Homo sapiens: one gene and its partners. The protein of the gene in region 1 interacts with the protein of each later gene in a biochemical or structural test. Each region holds a gene or a part of one and is shown on either strand. Other genes may lie near its edges.

Region 1 (7,784 bases):
CTCAGTGGGGGAGAGGGAATTAGAGAAGTCACCTCCAAGGAAAGGGCCTGTCACATTTCTGCAGCCCCTGCAGGCATCTACCCCCACCGGGCTCTCATTTGCCTCCAGGCTTTCCAAGGTTCTGGCCACGTGGGAGAAGTAACTTTCTATTTACTCAGTCTTTTCCCTTAAATAAATTCCATTTTTTACCTGAATAAAGCTTTATAACGCTACCCTTAACAGAAAACTTGGCAGTTTACAAAAAAGTGGCCGGGCACGATGGCTCACGCCTGTAATCCCAGCACTTTGGGAGGCAGAGGCGTGAGAATCGCTTGAGCACAAAAGTTTGAAAATCAATCTGGGCAACATAAGGAGACCCCATCTCTACAAAAAATACAAAAATTTGCCGGGCGTGCTGGAGAGTGCCCGTGGTCCCAGATACTCGGCGGCTGAGGTGGGAGGATCCGTTGAGCACAGGAGGATCTCGGCAGCGAGCCGAGATCACACCATTGCACTCCAGCCTGGGCAACAAAGTGAGACCCTGTCTCAAAAAATAATACATATTTTTTTATAGAGACGGGGTAGGTCTCTGGGGCCCAAGCGATCCTCCCACACCTCGGCCTCCCTAAATGCTGGGATTACAGGCGTGAGCCACCTCGCCCGGCCGATAATGACTCTAATCTACAGAATGCACACCGGAATGTAATACCTACAAGGGAAAAGATCTTCTTGCTTAGGAATAAAGCAATCTCTCTCTTAATATTCATTAAAGTAGTAATGTCTTATTTTATAGTTTATAAATTCTGTGAGAGCAACGAGTCACTTTGCAGGAATAGCACTTAAGGTATCTTTCACCTACCTGGAGAACCCAAGAAATTTTCATCTTACTAGGAATTCAGAGACAACCACGTATTTAACTTTTAAAAATATAACTAAGTAGAAAGAATTATATGCGTGTATTTTTGGAAGAATTAAGATGACTTTTGGGACGGAACGACTGAAAACTACGCTTTCAGAACTCCCTGCCGCCTGAGGCTGTGGCCCTGACCCCGGCGCAGGGCCCGCCCCGCGCGGTTCCGGGAAGCCGCCGCCGCCGCCCGTTGCCCTTCGCGCGCAGCCGCCAGCGCGCGCCTCGCGTCCCGCCACGCAGATGGCCGGCCCGAGCCCCCAGCGCCCGCGAGCAGTTTCGAGAACTAAAGAGGCGCGTCAGCTCGTCCCCGGGCCGCCCGCGGGCAATGGCCGAGCTCGGCTCTCCTTCCACCCTCCGCCGGGACACACGCGGAGCCGAGCGGGGGTCCCAGGCGCCTAGGGGGAGGGGTTCCCGCGCCCGGGGCGGCCTTGGGGGGAGGGCGAGTCGGGTGCCTTGCTCCTCAAAACCCTGGTCCACGACTCTGCGGTTGGGGGAGCCGGGCAGCCGGCGCAGCAGGAGCCGGGCCCCGTCCACAAGTTTCCTACGAGCAGGGCGGAATCGACGAAAATACTTAATACAAACAAACAAAAGGAAAAAAAAAAGGACGACTAAGCTGAAGAGCGCGCACGAGTCAGATTTTCACCCCAAATACAAACACGATACCTCTAGGAGCAGGAGACCAATACAGGGACCGCGCTCCGAGGACACGCGGCGCAGCCGAGGAGGAAAAAGGGCCCGGGGCCGAGAGCTAAGGCTACGGGAACCGGGCGTGGGAGGAGGGCGGAGCCAACTCCCCACAAGGAAGTCTTGTGCAACTCTCAGGCGCCTGCAGCCACGTGAGCGCGCGGCTTTCATTTTACTCAGGTATTATTACTATTATTACTTCTTTTGAGACAAGGTCTCATTTCCGTCGCCCGGCTGGAATGCAGTGGCACAATCACTGTCACTGCAGCCTCGACCTCAGAGCAAGCGACCCTCCCGCCTCAGCCTCCCGAGTAGCTGGGACAACAGGCGCGCGCCACCACACGTGGCTAATTTTTTTTTCTTTACTTTTCAGTAGAGACAGTCTATGTTGCCCAGGCTTGTCGGGAACTCCTGGGCTCAAGAGATCCTCCCGGCTGGGCCTCCCACTGCGCCAGGCCTGTTCTCACTTTCAGAGCCCTCCGGCAGTCGCCAGCTCCCCGCCAGGGGGCCGGACTAACGCACCCGGCCGTCCGTGCCTTCCCCGCGCTTTCCTGACTCCAAAATCTCAGCCCGCGGTGCTCACCGCGTGGGACCACTGTCTGGGCGTGCGGCTCTCGACCTCCGACGCTGCGTCTCCCGATCCCAGTGGGTCCAGTTCTTGCCGGTCCCACGTACGGGCCCCTCGACCTCGAATCCCGTCACCCAAATCTCAGCGCCACGGCCCCTCATTATGTGCAGTCCTCGCTCGGTCCCAGGTTTGCGGCGCTTAAACTCAGATCGCTCTTCCCTGATCCCAAATCCCAGCCCCAGCCCAACGATCCCCACCCCAATAGGCCCAGTCCCCAGGTAGTCCGGGTACGGGGCCCTGGACTTCGGATAGTCTCCCTAATCTCAAATCCCACCCCCCGTCCCCACCCCCAGGGGGACCCGGTCCCCGCTAGGTCCCGGGTGTGCGGCCTTCGACCTCGGAGACTTCGGCCGCCCCTCACCTCGGCCTCCGAGTCTCTACACTCCCGCTCTCATATCAGGCACCCCGGTGGTCCCTTGGAGCACCTAGAGGAGGGTGGGACGCGGGGAACTTGGCAGTTGTAGCAGAGGCAGTTGAGGCTTGTTGACCATCACCATGGAAACCCCCGCCTGCGAGCACGGGGCGGAGCCTACGAGGGGCGGGGTCAGGCGCGCTGCCGGCCCCAATCCTCAGCGCCTGCCCGTCGAGCGCACGCGGCTTTGCCGGAAGCCCTCCTGCTCCCGGCGAGCCAGGCCCCGACTAGGCCCTACTGCCCGGCTCAGCCCTTTGCCCTGGACACCAGGAAACAGAAGCCCAAGGAGCCCGCGTCCCCACCCCCTGCTACCTGCCGGCGTGACAGCGATTCGGTGGCCCCCCGAACCCCACCTTGAGGAAGACGCGGCGCAGTCCTGCTTCCACGACGGAGCCGGAAGGACGCAAGGACCGCGGCAGGGCGGAGTTTCTGCGTCCGGCGTCCGGGGGCGGGGCCGCGACGGCGCATTGTGACGCGCCAGAGCTGAGCCGCCGGTTGGCCGGCTGGGCGCGGAGCAGAGCCGACACGGCTGGCGGGGGAGGCGGTGGAGGCGGACAAGCGAGGACGTTTCTGGAGAGGAGAAGGGAGGGGAGGGGAGGGGATAGGGGGAGGGGGAGGAGGAGGAGGGAGTGGAGCGGCGGGAAAGATCCCTCTGACTGCCCCTGAGGCCCTGGAGGAAGGACACTGGTGAGCCCCGCAGGACACTGAAATGTGCGCCGAAAGGACGCCTGATGGAAGACTAGGATGGGAAAAGGAAATGAGAGCCGATGGCAGGGCGTGGTGGCGCAAGCCTGTGGTCCCAGTAATTTGGGAGGCTAAGGCGGGAGAATCGCTTGAGCCCGGGAGGTCGAGGCTGCAGTGATCCGTGACTGCTCCATTGCGTCCAGCCTGGGCGACAGAGCGAGGCGCTGTCTCAAAAAATAAAATAAGGAAAGTAGTACACTGAAGGCCGGGCGCGGTGGCTCACGCCTGTAATCCCACCACTTTGGGAGGCCGAGGCGGACGGATCAGGCGGTCGGGAAATCGAGACCATCCTGGCCAACATAGTGAAACCCCTACTAAAATACAAAAAAATTAGCCAGGCGTGGTGGCGCGCGCTTGTAGTCCCAGCCACTCGGGTGGCTGAGGCAGGGGAATCGCTTGAACCCGGGAGGCGGAGCTTGCGTGAGCCGAGATCGCGCCACTGCACTCCAGCCTAGCGACAGAGCGAGACTACGTCTCAAAGAAAAAAAAAAAAAAAAGGTACACTGAGTACTCCGGAGACCGCCTAAAGGGGTCTCAGAGCAGGGCGTTAGGAGGGATTTGTCAGGTTGAAGTTGCTCAGGTGATAAATTCCGTGGTGTGAGAAGCCCCCAAACCTCAGAATGTAACTCAGACCCAGGTCGAGGGCAAGATTTTCAGTCACAGAGCACCTGAACACACAGATTTGGTGGCTAATGGCTAAGCCAGGGACAGATTTTCTTTCTTTTCTTTTTTTTTTTGATGTATTGTAGGGCTAATAATTGTAACCATTTTATTTTGGTGGATCTTCTTCATGAAGAGATGATGTCAAGGCACTCATCACAGGTTAAGCTGAACATTGTTACTATTGTTATTATTTCCAGACTGAGTATCGCCCTGTCATTCAGGCGGGAGTGCAGTGGTACAATCACGGCTCACTGCAGCCTCGACCTCCTGGGCTCAAGCGATCCTCCTGCCTCAACCTCCTGAGTAGCACCACCACTCTCGGCTAAATTTTGTATTTTTTGTAGAGGCGAGGTTTCGCTGTGTTGCCCGGGCTGGTCGGGAACTCCTGGACTCAAGCCATCCGCCCACCTACGCCTCCCAGAGTGTTGGGATTACTGGATTGAGCCACGCATCTGGCTGAACGTTATTTTTTAAATCACCAGAGAAAGTAAAGGAGTGCTCAAAATAGTGTCAGATGATGAGTGGGATGATTGTGATGAAGGAAGGAGTTTGTTAAAAGAAAAAGCTAGTTCCAAGAAAGAGAATGGAAAGAGTAAAGCAGGAGCTGTCAGAATAGGTAAAAATGTCCAAAGAGAAAACTGCATAATTTGAGGCAAAATTACAGAAAATAGTTCCTGCAAAAATCAGATAGGTATTCAGCATCATAGGAAAGGGGCGAAAATCAGATAGGTAGGTATTCTTAAGAAGTTGTGGCCGGCCGGGCGCGGTGGCTCGCGCCTGTAATCCCAAGACTTTGGGAGGCCGAGGTGGGTGGATCACCTGAGGTTAGGCGTTTGAGACCAGCCTGGGCAACATGGCGAAACCCTGTCTCTACTAAAAATACAAAAAAAAATTAGCCGGGCGTGTTGGCGCGTACCTGTAGTCCCATCTACCCTGGAGGCTGAGGCAGGAGAATCGCTTGAATCCAGGAGGTGATGGTTGCAGTGAGCCGAGATTGCACCATTGCCCTCCAGCCTGGGTAACAAGAGCGAAACTCTGTCTCAAAAAAAAAAAAAAAGTCATACAGTGACTGCATCACAGCTCATGCTGTAGAAAGATGTTTCTGGAGAGAAAAATTCAAGTAGCCAATTTAAATCGAATATTAGGAAAATTAAACCAAAAGGGCTCACGCCTGTAATCCTAGCACTTTGGGAAGCCGAGTCAGGCGGATTACCTGAGGTCAGGAGTTCAAGACCATCCTGGCCAACATGGTGAAACCCTGTCTCTACTAAAAATACAAAAATTAGCCGGGCGTGGTGGCACATGCCTGTAATCTCAGCTACTCAGGAGGGTGAGGCAGGAGAATTGCTTGAGCCCAGGAGATGGAGGTTGCAGTGAGCCAAGATTTTGCCACTGCACTCTAGCCTGGCCGACAGAGCAAGACTCTGTCTCAAAAAAAAAAAAAGAAAGAAAATTAAACCAAAAGACTAGTAATGCTTCAGAAATTAGGGACTGTTAAACCAGCTGCAAGAAGATATATTCATGCAATCTTTGTATTAAGAGTCTCTCTGGCTGGGTGCGGTGACTCAGACCTGTAATCCCAGCACTTTGGGAGGCCAAGGCCAGTGGATTGCTTGAGCCCTGGAGTTCAAGACCAGCCTGGGGAACATAGTGAGACCCAGTCTGTATTTTAAAAGTTAAAAAAAAAAAAAAGCCTCTAAGCTAAGTGGACCTTTGATCCCCTCACTCAAATTTGACAGTTCTCCATTATTCATAAATGAGGTAATAGTTGTTGGAGACGGTCTTCTCTGAATGCAAGACTAGTACTTTGGCCTGATTATAGAACTTCCTGCCGTCCTAAGGAGTCATCCCAGGTGTCCACTATATCTTTTTCAGCATTGAGTACCAGCACAGTCACATGTAGGCTTTATCCCACAGTGAAGACTTGGCATCACTCAGAATGATGCCACAGGTCCTAGGCCTTTTCCACACTGGGCTCACTTCACCAACTCGCAAATGCTCATCCACACCTGGTCCACCTGGACTACCTCCTTATCTGTAGCCCTTTCACCTCTGTGTCCATAGAAATGTCTTACCTAAGCTCTGAAATCTAAACATTCAGAGAGCACCTTGATGCTTGAGAGCATCTACACAGAGATGAACCTTTAAGATCTATGGTTTAAAACAATTGAATTCCAAGATGTTGCCCCTTACAGACTGACCTGCCTGATTATTTCCTGTTGTTTATGTACATTGATTATTATCAAAAACTTAATACTTTATTTTTTTTGAGACGGAGTCTCGCTCTGTCGCCCAGGCTGGAGTGCAGTGGTGCGATCTCAGCTCACTGCAAGCTTCTCCTCCCGGGTTCACGCCATGCTCCTGCCTCAGCCTCCCGAGTAGCTGGGACTACAGGCGCCCACCACGGCGCCTGGCAAATTTTTTTTTATTTTTAGCAGAGACAGGTTTTCACCGTGTTAGCCAGGATGGTGTCAATCTCCTGACCTCGTGATCCGCCCGCCTCGGCCTCCCAAAGTGCTGGGATTACAGGCGTGAGCCACCGCGCCCAGCCAAAAACTTAATAGTTTTTAATAAATATTGTCAGGTTTTTTTTTTTTTTTTTTTTTGAGACGGAGTTTTGCTCTTGTCACCCAGGCTGGAATGCAATGGCACGATCTTGGCTCACCGCACCCTCCACCTCCCAGGTTCAAGCGATTCTCCTGCCTCAGCCTCCCGAGTAGCTGGGATTAGAGGTGCCCACCACCAGGCCCGGCTAATTTTTGTATTTTTAGTAGACACGGGGTTTCGCCTTGTTGGCCAGGCTAGCCTTGAACTCCTGACCTCATGATCCACCCGCCTCCGCCTCTCAAAGTGCTGGGATTACAGGCGTGAGCCACCGCGCCTGGCCAATATTGTCAGTTTTAAAAAATAAGTTCCCCTCTAGACACTACTTATCCATACAATTGGTTACAGGTTTGGAGCGTTACAGAGGTTTTTAAATCTTCTACTCAGTAGTTCTTGAAAAATCACCTTACCTATTAAGCTGAGATTCCCCCTTCCCGCAAGACGGTGCCATTAAGTAGGCAGGGATCACCAAGGTTCAGAGATGTCTCTTGCTCAAAAATCATAGTATCTGTTAAATAGCAATAACCGTAGCTAACACATACTGCATTCTCACTATGCTTTGTGCTATTCTACTTAATCCCACTGAAACCTGGTAACAACCCTGCAGTAGATACTACCACCATTTGGCGGAAAGAAACTGAGTCACCCAGCTTCTAGATGGCTGAGCTGGAAGTTGTATGGAGGCTGGAGGCCCCATCTGATTCCAGGGTCCGTTCTCAACTACTGCAATCTAGATCCTAGCGAGAAACGGGCTTTTCAGGCTGTCTCCTCCCTTTCCCATCTGAGAGGAGAATGAAGGAAGTGAGAAAGCCAACTGACCTGTCTAGTCAGTATAGGCCCTGTCTAAATGTCACTTTTCTCCTTGAAGCGAGGTGCTCTAGGAGGCAGAGATAACCCAGGTGGGAAGAGGCACATTCGGCAGTGACAGCCTTGTCTGGTTAATTTTCATGACCAATATAGAAAAGTGCAACTTTGAGGCCGGGCACGGTGGCTCACGCCTGTAATCCCAGCACTTCGGGAGGCCGAGGCCGGCGAATCACGAGGTCAGGAGATTGAGACCATCCTGGCTAACACGGTGAAACCGTGTCTCTACTAAAAATACAAAAAATTAGCCAGGTGAGGTGGCGGGTGCCTGTAGTCCCAGCTACTCGGGAGGCTGA
Region 2 (7,032 bases), on another chromosome or scaffold:
TAAAGTATAGTGTATCATATAGTGACAGGCGCTATGGAGTGATACCAGGTAAAGAGGGGAGAGATTTCTGTGAGGGAGAAGTTACTATTTTATGTAAGTTGATTAGAGAAGGCTTCGGTGTGAATGGCATTTGAACAAAGACTTGCCGGAGGTAAGGTAGCAGCCATATAGCTGTATGGGGAAAAGCTGTGATCCAAAGGTAACCATGGGCACAAAAGCCTGAAGACTATAGGGTTCCTGTCATGTTAACAGAAGAGCAAGGAGGCCAGTGGTGCTGGAGCAGAGTGAGTGAGGGGGAAGTTGTAGGAGATAAGATTAGAGAGATAGCAGAGGGTTGCATCTTATAGGGAGATTATAAAATTATACTTCTGTGTTGAGACTCGACTATCAAAGATTAAGGGGGGTAGGATTAGGAGGCTATACCAATGAAGTTCATGTAGTAGTCCATTTATAAACAAGGAAAAGGAAATGCTAAATGGAAAGTAATGTGTATGGATACTAGTCCAGTGCTAAATCTTAACTAATTGCTTAGACTTGCTTTAAAAATGTCTCTGAAGCTTTTTAGTTACTATGGGATATGCAGTCCATTGTTTGTTCTTTTAAGAAAGTATTTAGATTGTTCAAAATCTTAGCTAGAAACAATACGAATACAATTTTGGGAATTTGGGCAATTTACAAAAATTTCAGATTTGCTGTATTAGCCCCATTTAAGCTTCTTAGAATTAGGTCCTTGTCTTTTGGACTGTGGCTGATTTTTTTACTTAACTAAAGAAAAAAATAGAAGTGAAAGGATTTGTTATTTTGAGAGAGTATAGTTTATTTCAGAAGTGATGGTTGCCTGTTTTAAGTCTGCGGGCTCAAGGCATGTTATCTTTCAAGTTGTTCAATATCAAAATAGATGAGCCAAAAAGAAGGGAACAGTGTGCTTAAGGTTTAAAAACGTAATGTTGAAGTTGTTGGTTTTAGTTACTTTACTTTTCTATTTTACAGGGTTGGTTTTTGTTTTCCATTTTGTGGGTCTAAAATTTCTTGTAAGGCTATAAGATGTACAGTGTACCCGTATAAAATTAGGATTGACTTATAGAGGGGAAATTTATTTGGTTTATTAAGATCCTTTCAGATGGATTTTATACCTGCTTCTCTATACTAGCCAAGTCTGTCTGAGTGAAGTGGTAATGTTATCTTTAATTTACATTTTAAAACTTTTACATAGTTAAATTTTAATAAAAAATCTGTTCTTGCCTTGGGAACTACCATAGATACGTTTTCTTCAGGGTACATTGAGCGAATTCCCCAAATTGTATTCGTATTGTTTTATTTCATTTCCCTGTTCCCTTACCCAGGTTGTCTTATGAGTTCAATATCATGTTTCTGTTCGTAAGTTCAGATTTTGTCTGTAGTCTTCACCCCTTTATAGTCTCTCAACTATCAGGTGAAAGTGGAACATTTCTTACCTCTTAATACTTTCTGCCTCCTCCCATTCTCCAGACAAATATTGTCCTTTAATATAGCCAAAATGAACAAAGGGTTTGCAGTTCAGAGATGTGACTATGTACATGTATTTTCTAGTTGTTTCTCAGAAATCATACCTTCTCTTCCCACAGCACTATTTTCCCCTTTTCAAGCTTATAAGAGGGCCTAGGAGGGTTGCTTTAAAGGCTGTGGTATGATTCCAAACTGGAACAAGCCAGCTGGAAAGTTAAGTTAGGAAGACTGTAGAGGTGGAATAAAGGGTTGGCAAAATAGATGAGCCAGAAAGAAGGGAACAGTGTGCTTAAGGTTTAAAAAACAGCAACAAAAAATAACTGCTCTCATTCAGCTAGTTTTTCAGCATCTGCATTCTCCCAACCTCACTGAAATTTGGTTCTGAGGAGCTCTGCTTTCTAGAATACGGTTTCTTAACATCAGCACTATTGACATTCTTGGCCAGTTATTTGTTTTGGGAGATGCCCTATGCAACGTGAGATATTTAGCAGCATGCCTGGCCCCTACCCACTAGATGCCAGTTGCTTCCCCTAGTTTTGACTACTAAAAATGTCTCCAAGGTTTGCCAGATGACCACTGGGGGCAAAATCTACACCCTGTTGAGAACTACTGCTGTAGAAGAAGGCTATTTGAATGTCCTAGCTGGCAGCTTGCGTAAATATTACATCAATTATGCTTTTTTTCAATAAGTGAATCCTGGAAATGAAAGACCTTTGTGTGAAATTTGGCACTTTGGGTGGTGGAACCTTGATAGGTCCTGTGACTTAGGTTTGATCTATACTTAAGAATCAAGGTCCCTGAACCTCTGTGCCACACATGTCTACAACTTTACACAGGCAGATATCTCCAGGAATAAATACATCTCAGCTCTCATGCTGCATGCGTATTATACTTTTTGTGGCATTATCCTTTCAAAATTATAGTCAGTGGACATTCAGTCAGGTTATCATGGTAATTAATGGGTTGGGAAGTTGACGTACAGAGTGTCTTACCCTGTAACCTTTATAATACCCCCCCTCAGATCCTATGTGGATAGTAATAGATTCGTTTTATTCAGCTTCAGTTCATGTGGTATCTGAAGATCATTTCAGTCATTCAATAGATTTAACATTCCAAGCTTAGAATAGCCAGGTGCTGTGTTTTATGAGAATCACCATACATCATTTTCAAGCCAAGTGTTCCATAGGCAAGTAAGTGATTATGAACTTTGTAACAATAATTCCTTTGGCTGTTCAGATCTGAAGATTGAAGTTATATGTAACTTGCTACTGTGTAACCATATATCCAACTGCAGATTTTCATTATTAATACCGATTCCCTGCACAGTTACAGGCTCTTGCTTTCTTGTCCATATGCCGACCAAATAATTGAATCAATGGAAGTCGAAAATTGGATTGTATTAGACTAGCCAAAGTGTTTAGCAGCAGCATCAGGTTCCATACTTAACACTATTATTTTAATTTTTTAAGCTTTATGTTATACCACAAAAGGACTTAGGTGAGTGTGTTAAGGCTTTAAACAAAGTGGTAAGAGATACAAACAGCAAGGGTCTTAATAGACAGGTGTTTGAGGTTAATTTTTAGCACACCTTCATTCAACTTGAATTGTTGAGCAATCAAAAAGACAGATGCTTGGTAATGATTTTAGAATGGTAGATTTAAAAAACATAGAGATTATTCGAATGATATGGTTTTTAAATAAAGCAGTTATCAGTAATTCAGTTAATAAAAGCTAGTTAAAGCAGGAATTGTAAAACGTGGTCCTTTTTTCCACCAATTTTTTGATATAGTGCTCAGGACTTTTCTTTGAATATACGTATACTGACTGTCGTTCCCATTATTTAGGATAAACTATACCGTTGTGCTGCATCATATGCAGAACTGAAATTGTTAATTGAAGACTTGAGATTAGAGCTTAGAAACATGTGAAGCAAGTGAGAAATCCTAATGTTTTATGCTCCTTTTTCCCATCTTTTGAAGCTTTCCTCTTTATAGCTGATATGACAGCTTTTTTTTCTGATCAAGTCTTTCCAAAGCATTCGACTTGGTTTTGCACCCTTATTTTGTCATTTACATAATACATTATTAGACTAATGAATACTACTGGTACTAACAGGTTTCGGAACAAGCAACTGAGGATCAGTAAACAACTCAAGTTAAAAGAATGGGAGTAGCGGTACATGAGTATTCTAACTACTAGTGTTTAACATGTTGTTGGCAGCTTTCCAGCTTGTCCACAGAAATGGACAGGGCTGCTGATTGCATAGCTCCATGGGCACTACTCACACAAAATTTAACATAAATAATGCCTCCTGGAGTTATTGTATATAGTGGCTCTGGGAATGGGAGGCTGTTGGTTAATCTAGCTTAGTCTGAGAAATGGAGGGTCTGTGAAGAGCTTCTACTCTGTAAAAACATAGGGCCTGGTAGAAAAGAGATTATAACCTAAAAAGGTTAAATAAAATTTGTGATAGCAGATTTATCATGTAATGTTAATTTTTTATGTTGCTGAAATAGGTGGGCAGCCTCACAAAAGGAGAAAGACCTCTGATGCAAATGAAACTGAAGATCATTTGGAATCTTTAATATGTAAAGTAGGAGAAAAGGTATGTCACACAATAGGCACAGGCTGTGATGGGTTTAAGAATGTGGTTAACTGTGCTTTGATTAATTTTTGCAGCTGAAAAGTTGGACTACATTTTGGCAAAGCTGGTATTACCATGCATCTGTATCCCAAATTGAATCCATGTTGAAGCCCCTGGGATGTAGATAATTGATCATTTTTAGTACTTTAGTAATTAATAATTTTCATAGAAGATGAGCCCTTAGAAGGGACCTAGGGTATAGACCCCTTAATTTATGCATGAACTAAATCAGCCCTGAATACTTGAGGTAATTTGCCCAGAGTAAGAGAGTGAATTAGTAAAAGAGGTAAAATGGAGCCCATGGTGTCCTCCCATTTCTAATACTTATTCTGTTATCATAGACTGCTTAGTTTTTAAATTTCACTCGTCCACTTTTCATGGATTTCTGAAGAACAATAACTATCTGAATTGATTTATACTAAACCCATTATAGCTCTGTATGCATGTAAGACTATTTTAATGATCATGCAGAAGTTTTTATTTTAGTTCACTAAAATAGCAATTGAAAGGACAGATGATTGGTAATGATTTTAAAATGATAGATTTTAAAATATGTATATATTTACATTTAAATAGATTTTTAAAAATAAATTTATGTTGCTGAGTACTTGACAGATATTTAATGTGATGTCCTCTACAGAGTGCCTGCTCTTTGGAGAGCAACCTAGAAGGCTTGGCTGGTGTTTTGGAAGCTGATCTTCCTAACTACAAGAGCAAGATCTTAAGGCTTCTTTGTACAGTGTATGTATGCAAAAGATTTATGAATCCAGGTGATAATGTATTATCTACTCTTAAATGCTTTGGGAAATGTTCAAAATACATGTTTATGTTCTATATGTCCTTGGCTTTACTTCTATGGGGAAATTTGTACAAATGAGCCAACCTTTGGCGCTTTGGCGAACTCTTTTTCTTAGGGATAAAACTAAAATTGAACATTTTCCTTGTATGTTCTTACAACCTTAGAATCATTTTAGTTGACTTTTTATAGAGATAGTAGATACTGTCTCATTCAGATATATATTTTTAAGCATGTACATTTAAATGTATGATACTTACATTTTTAAATTAGTACCAGACAAATTTGGGAATTGGTAACTCAGGTAATAGCCCTTCTTGGAAGACTGAAGATGCTTTGGAAGCCACTGTTAATAGGCATACTCTCTGGATAAATGGGAGTCTTTGTAGTTACATGAAATTGTAATGTATCCATGAGGTGTTTTTAAATTATGAAGGTGATGTTTATCACTTCTCAGCCTTTTAGTTTAGATCAAGTGAAGGTAACTTTAAGAAACTACTAAGGAAATCTTCTGAAATCCTTTATTAAAATGGAGTAGTATTTACACTTAAACTGTTGGAAGCCTTGTTTGTTTAAGGCTGAACTTGTATTGCTTCGCAGTGTTCTTTTTTAATTTTTGGTTTTGGGAGGGTTTCAGGGACCACAGTTACCATCAACACAGGTATTTTTTTTGAAGACCTTGATTGTCCCTGATGTTCTGCTAGGTACTTTAGGAAAACAAGTCAAAGAGAATCTCTTGCCCACTTAATGATTATGAATTCTTATTGCTTTTTGAGCTAATTCTAAAGGCTGCCTAAATTAGGAAAAATTGCTTTTTCTAAAGGTTTATTGTAATCCTTTCCCATACTTTTAAAATAACTTTAATGAAATCAGCACACTTGGAGTAAGCAACTGAGACGTAAACAAATCTTAACTATATCAGAGTATGTTTTTAAAAAATTCAATAATTAAACTGGTAGGAACTTAGATGAAACTCGTTTTAATTGTGCATCTTTTCTAAACAACTAGAATAGTGTTTCTCAAAGTAGAATTCTAGTTCCATGACATTTGGTTAGCTAAGTTTAGAAATTCTGAATGCTGCACGCCCCCCCTTAATGATTCTGTATTAAAGAGGCTTGTTTCACCCAGGATTTCTGAGCTATTTTACCATGGAAACCATGTTCTGTGGAAATGCTATTCAGTTCCACTAAGCACACTTGAAGAAAAACTGTTGTAGCATTAGTTTTATTTATTTCAGTATGATAACTTTACAATTAAATCATTTACTTTCTTAACTCTTAGATTAACTGATGAATTAAAATGAAAAATTACGGGACTATGTCTGTAACATTTCTCAATGACATGCTTTTTCTGAAGTATTTTTAAAGACATAGCTAAAAGTAATCCTGTTCCAAAGTTAATGGAATGATAAAAAGATTCACATAAAATTCAGCAACTTAACGCCATTGTTTTGGGGTTTTCTTGTTATACTGGGTTCTTAAATCAGTGCACGCCTATTACCTGAGAAGCTGACAATTTATACAACATTAGTTGGACTACTGAATGCCAGGAATTACAATTTTGGTGGAGAATTTGTAGAAGCCATGATTCGTCAACTTAAAGAATCATTGAAAGCAAACAATTATAATGAAGCCGTGTATTTGGTAAGTTAGTTTGTTTGTTGGTATGTTATGACTACTGTTGGGATGGAGGGAAAAGGTGAACTACAACCAAATAATTTAAAATGCTCTCCTAAAACATTCTCATTCACTTTCATAGCTTCATAAGCCACCTTTATTTTGACGATACCCCCAAATCTGTAACTGTATCTCCAACCTTTCTCCTGAGCTCCAGTCCAGTATTCCAGATGCTAGCTGCATAGCCTTCAGATACCTTACTAGGAAGTGCCTAAATTAATGCATCATTCATACCTCCTTTTTTCTGCCCTCTCCCCAGCTCATACAGTGGCCACTGTGTACTGAATAACCCATCTAGAAAGCTGAGCATTAATTTTTGTCTTCCCTTTGCCCTCTCGTACCATAGGTGTTCCCAATCCCTGTCAATTCTGTCTCCCTAATTTCTCTCAAGTCTGTCCTTTCTTAGTCTCCAGGGCCTCTAGCATAGTTTA
Region 3 (4,655 bases), on another chromosome or scaffold:
GTAGGCTGGGATGAGAGAAGTTGATTTCCAAACCAGAATTAATGAATGTCTCTACCGTACTTAGAAATACTATTTAAGCAAGGCTCTGAAGTTGCTTAACTTTTGTCTCTATTTGAAATTCTAGGGTGACAATGAAGAACAAGAAAAATTACTGAAGAAAAGCTGTACGTTATATGTTGGAAATCTTTCTTTTTACACAACTGAAGAACAAATCTATGAACTCTTCAGCAAAAGTGGTGACATAAAGAAAATCATTATGGGTCTGGATAAAATGAAGAAAACAGCATGTGGATTCTGTTTTGTGGAGTATCCTTCCCATGGATCTAATGTAGCTGCTGAACCAGGGTAGAGCTGAGAGTGGTAGCTCATAAGCGTCCCTGCACTCGTCCCTACGTTTTCCTTCATCTCCCTCCTACTTTCCACCCAGTGTGTCTCTGCCCTTATACTGTAAAGCTGATACTATTTATATTCTCTTCTGAAATCCATGCTTTATGGTTCTTTAACAAAAAGTTTTTCAAGAATGTTTGCCCTTCACGTAAAAAAAAAAAAATTCCAAAGAATGTAGTGAAAATATAAAAATCTCGTACTGTTCTAAACCCCTAATGCCCTTTGCCAGAGGCAGTCAGTTACCAGTTTCTTGGGCGTCTTTCAAGAAGTAACCCTGTGGGTGTGCGGTAGTGTATTTCATGTGCTGTTTTTAAAATCATTTTTTTATTTTTTATTGTTCCATTTCAGCATATGTAGGTCTTTTTTTAAAATAGCTGTACAGCTGGGCATGGTGGCTGGTGTTTGTAGTGCCAGCTGCTCAGGAAGCTGAGGCAGGAGGATCAGTTGAGCCCAAGATTTCAAGGCTGCACTGAGTTGTGACTGTGTTCCAGCGGGGGTGACGGGTTAAGACCCCATCTTTAAAGAAAAAAACTTTTAAGTAAATAGCTGTATAGTATTTCATTATATAGATGTATATAACCTGACTGTATAGGTACAAACCAAAACTATTTACTTTGATCATTTAATTCCCTTACTCAGACTCTTTTAAGTATTGGACCTCTTGGATTTATCCTATGTTCTTTTTACTGTATGTTTTGGTCATTCAATTTAATATTCTGAGAAATTTTGCAGGCCCAATTTAATATATCTTTTGAATTTTTTCCTGTGCCCTGAATTATGTTTGTTTCGGTTGAAATTTTTCCTTAAGTGTCTGGTGATCCCTGGATTTCTGCTCATAATTAAGGAAAAGAATGCTGACTCACTGGACCCAGGCAGGGCTTCTCTCCCAGATTGCAGGCTTGCCTCGGGGATACACAGGTTTCCCAAATGCTAGAATGAAAAGAGATTTTATTTTGGCTTGCTAACATCAAAGATACTAGTTTCTCCAGATGGTTTATTCAGAACACTGTTGTCTTATTTTTATTTGTCTGAGATTAAATGTCTTCCCCTTTAATTAAAGGGAGGTCTCTGATGAAGTAGGTTTGGGAACTGCTACCTTGGTGACAGCTTGAGTCTTTCCTTTAGTGAAGTGCAGCACAATTCCACGTGCACGGTGACCTTCTCTTGATTAGGGTGCCTTGGAATGTACAGAACCTAACTTGAATATACAGCACTGGTTTCTTGGATAAGAAGTGTACAGTGATCTAAACTTGCAAACCAAAATACAGAGATGATGGGACCAAAAATTATCAACAGGAATGTCCAAGAAATATGATCAGTGTAGCCATGGATACGTGTCATATTTGACTCTATGTGCTTCCAAACCAATCGCAAACAGGCCTGGGCAAGCTGAATTACTGTCTTTGAACTCCATCTGGTTGGATTAGCTCTTGTACTTTTTAACAACTCAGCTTCATTTACATGTTGTTCCCCTATTTCCAGAAATGTTTGGAAAAATGCTAGTGTTCCTTAATACTTAAGATATTACTCACGCGCAGATGCGGAAAACGCCATGCGGTACATAAATGGGACGCGTCTGGATGACCGAATCATTCGCACAGACTGGGACGCAGGCTTTAAGGAGGGCAGGCAATACGGCCGTGGGCGATCTGGGGGCCAGGTATGCAAGAAGGGTCTCTGGGCTCAGCCATTGCCTGGGATTCCAGTCACAATGACAGGTGTTTTGGCAATTTGTATTTACTCTTTTGTAAATAACTTTGTGTCTATAACCTTGGCTTGAAGTGGATCTGAAAACCACCCAACGGTTTGGGTGAATTTTTTTTTTAAACCGTGAAATGGTATGTTCTGTACGTTTCTAACAAGCAACCATTCTTGAACTTCTGCTAGGGCTAGGTATCTTCCACCTGCAGGAACATCTAAAATGAAAGCAAAACGCACTGAAGTGAGCTGAAGTGCATATGTCCTGCTTGAAATGTTCACATTGTGGCATCTGAACAGGTTTCACTGTTTGTCTAACATGTTTGTGGGAGGCATATTTGTTACACCATTCTTTTCCATACTGTAACTCTGGATTCTTTCCATTAAAGGTTCGGGATGAGTATCGGCAGGACTACGATGCTGGGAGAGGAGGCTATGGAAAACTGGCACAGAACCAGTGAGTGGTGAGAGCTCTGTCAGTGACAAACACTCCTTTGGCCTGTTGAATTTGCTGAAGAACATCACCTAAAGTCTGCACACGAGCCCATTTTTACCAAGATTTGATCAGTGTCTTTACTGAGCTGGAAGCCTCTGAAAGTTATTAAAGGACAGAATCCAAAAGAATGCCTTTAATTCTTGTCTGAGAATCTTGGCCATGTGTCAGATTATCAGAACAATTTTGTTACCAGGTCAGAAATTGTGTTCTTTGACAACAGATTGGATCTGTAATGTTGATTAGTCTTTAGCCATAACCACTACACTTTTAGAAAGACAGAAAAATGTAAGAATTTGTTTTTACCATAATGAGTCTTAAGTAGGTTCATGATCTACATTGGGGCCTGGGATTATTTTTTTAATTTTAAGTTTGCATGAGATAGCCTAATAAATGGAGGTGGGGCCAGGCATGGTGGCTCACACGTGTAATCCCAACACTTTGGGAGGCTGAGGAGGAAGGATAGCTTGAGGCCAGGAGTTTGAGACTAGACTGGGCAACATAGCAAGACCCCGTCTCTACAAAGCACAACGAAAAACAACAAATGGAGTTGTGCTATGTTGTATTGCTTTGCACAAAATTAGGAACAGGTGTTTGACAATTGAATTTGTTTTCTGTGAATTCTAACCTCTAAAGGCATGCTTAGAGGTCAAGGACCTTCCTGTGTAGTTGGTGCAAAAGCAATCTCCACAGGACAGCACTGCTTCCATGCTTCATACATCAGGAAATGAGGCCAGAACTTGAGTATTTACTAACACGTTTTTCAAAAGATGTCAGTGTTATACCTAAAGCTAAAAAAAAGCAAGGGTTTGTCATAGAGGGAACCTCTAAATAATTTCAGGGGTAGGGGAGATGTTGTCAATAGGAAATGGGATAAAATATCAAGAGACAATGAAAACACTGCCTTGACATGAGGACCAGCAAGTTTATTCTTTTCATTTTCAGTGATGTTGGGAATGGACTGGGTTTTAAAAGGGAGCTTGAAGAGGGAATGTTTGACAGTCACAGAAGGTTCCTGCAGCAGATGCCTCTTTTAGCCATTTCTCATTTTTTTCCTCAAATTTTACCTACTGAGGCTCAAGCCTTCACAGTGAGCTGATGGTCTCTACAGGGAGGGGAGTCTAGGGAATTTATTTGGTATTTGTAAGGCAAGAGGTGATTTCTCTCTAATATATCTGAGTTATTGCTCATTTAAAACTGTTAAGTCCAGTATAATTTTCCCTGATATGAAAAAATGTGCATTTTTTTCACTTAGCAACAAAGTACCTTCTAATTTCCAATAGTCCGTGAAAGTTGGGGCTGAAGTACCTAAGTGTGAATGTCTCTCCCGTTAAACTGAGTGTAGAAATCTGAATTTTTAAAAGAGCTGTAACTAGTTGTAAGTGCTTAGGAAGAAACTTTGCAAACATTTAATGAGGATACACTGTTCATTTTTAAAATTCCTTCACACTGTAATTTAATGTGTTTTATATTCTTTTGTAGTAAAACAACATAACTCAGATTTCTACAGGAGACAGTGGTTTTATTCGGATTGTCTTCTGTAATAGGTTTCAATAAAGCTGGATGAACTTATCGTTGTTGCTGCCTGTTTCCTGGCCTATAAAGAGGGTTGTGTTCTGGAATTCCTGTACTCTGGATACACATGAATGAGTTCCAGGGGGATTCTATGAATAGTGTGGACAATTCGCGTGTCCATTTTGATTGACTGACAGTTGGAAATAACTATTGCTGCGTGTGAAGAGAGCGCACAGATTTTCTTGTGAAAGTGATCAAATAGGCACCAAGCAACCTCTACTGATGGAAGAATAGGTTAGTTTTCCAAAAAACATGCTCTGGATGATTGCAAGGGAAGGGAAATTGTGGGTGGATTAAGAACATCTTATGTTTCCTGGGCTAGAGAACACTAAATGTGAGTCTCTTTACTGCACCATTCTTTCCTATTTCTCATGGATAGCATCTGACCTGTTTCTCACTTTAATCGGAGAAAAGTGAAAATTCAAACGTACAGATGAAGGCATCACTATTAATACATGTTAGTGAAGTGTGAGAATTAAACATTCAGTTTCTCAGTCAAGCT

The links. The genes of interacting proteins can lie anywhere in the genome.
Region 2: the proteins of HNRNPF (region 1) and NCBP1 form a complex in vitro, tested with the Homo sapiens proteins (one study listed by BioGRID).
Region 3: the proteins of HNRNPF (region 1) and NCBP2 form a complex in vitro, tested with the Homo sapiens proteins (one study listed by BioGRID).

What each region holds. Positions count from the first base shown.
Region 1 is NC_000010.11:43,406,165-43,413,948, forward strand, and holds the start of HNRNPF (heterogeneous nuclear ribonucleoprotein F), read right to left. Parts: upstream 3,023-7,784; 5' UTR 2,967-3,022; exon of another isoform or gene 2,926-2,966; intron 2,694-2,925; exon of another isoform or gene 2,563-2,693; intron 1,615-2,562; exon of another isoform or gene 1,553-1,614; intron 1-1,552.
Region 2 is NC_000009.12:97,636,793-97,643,824, forward strand, and holds part of NCBP1 (nuclear cap-binding protein subunit 1), read left to right. Parts: intron 1-4,001; coding exon 4,002-4,090; intron 4,091-4,769; coding exon 4,770-4,870; exon of another isoform or gene 4,871-4,876; coding exon of another isoform or gene 4,877-4,899; intron 4,900-6,411; coding exon 6,412-6,568; intron 6,569-7,032. UniProt on the Homo sapiens protein: Component of the cap-binding complex (CBC), which binds cotranscriptionally to the 5'-cap of pre-mRNAs and is involved in various processes such as pre-mRNA splicing, translation regulation, nonsense-mediated mRNA decay, RNA-mediated gene silencing (RNAi) by microRNAs (miRNAs) and mRNA export.
Region 3 is NC_000003.12:196,934,902-196,939,556, reverse strand, and holds the end of NCBP2 (nuclear cap-binding protein subunit 2), read left to right. Parts: intron 1-124; coding exon 125-306; intron 307-1,908; coding exon 1,909-2,047; intron 2,048-2,474; coding exon 2,475-2,546; 3' UTR 2,547-4,151; downstream 4,152-4,655. UniProt on the Homo sapiens protein: Component of the cap-binding complex (CBC), which binds co-transcriptionally to the 5' cap of pre-mRNAs and is involved in various processes such as pre-mRNA splicing, translation regulation, nonsense-mediated mRNA decay, RNA-mediated gene silencing (RNAi) by microRNAs (miRNAs) and mRNA export.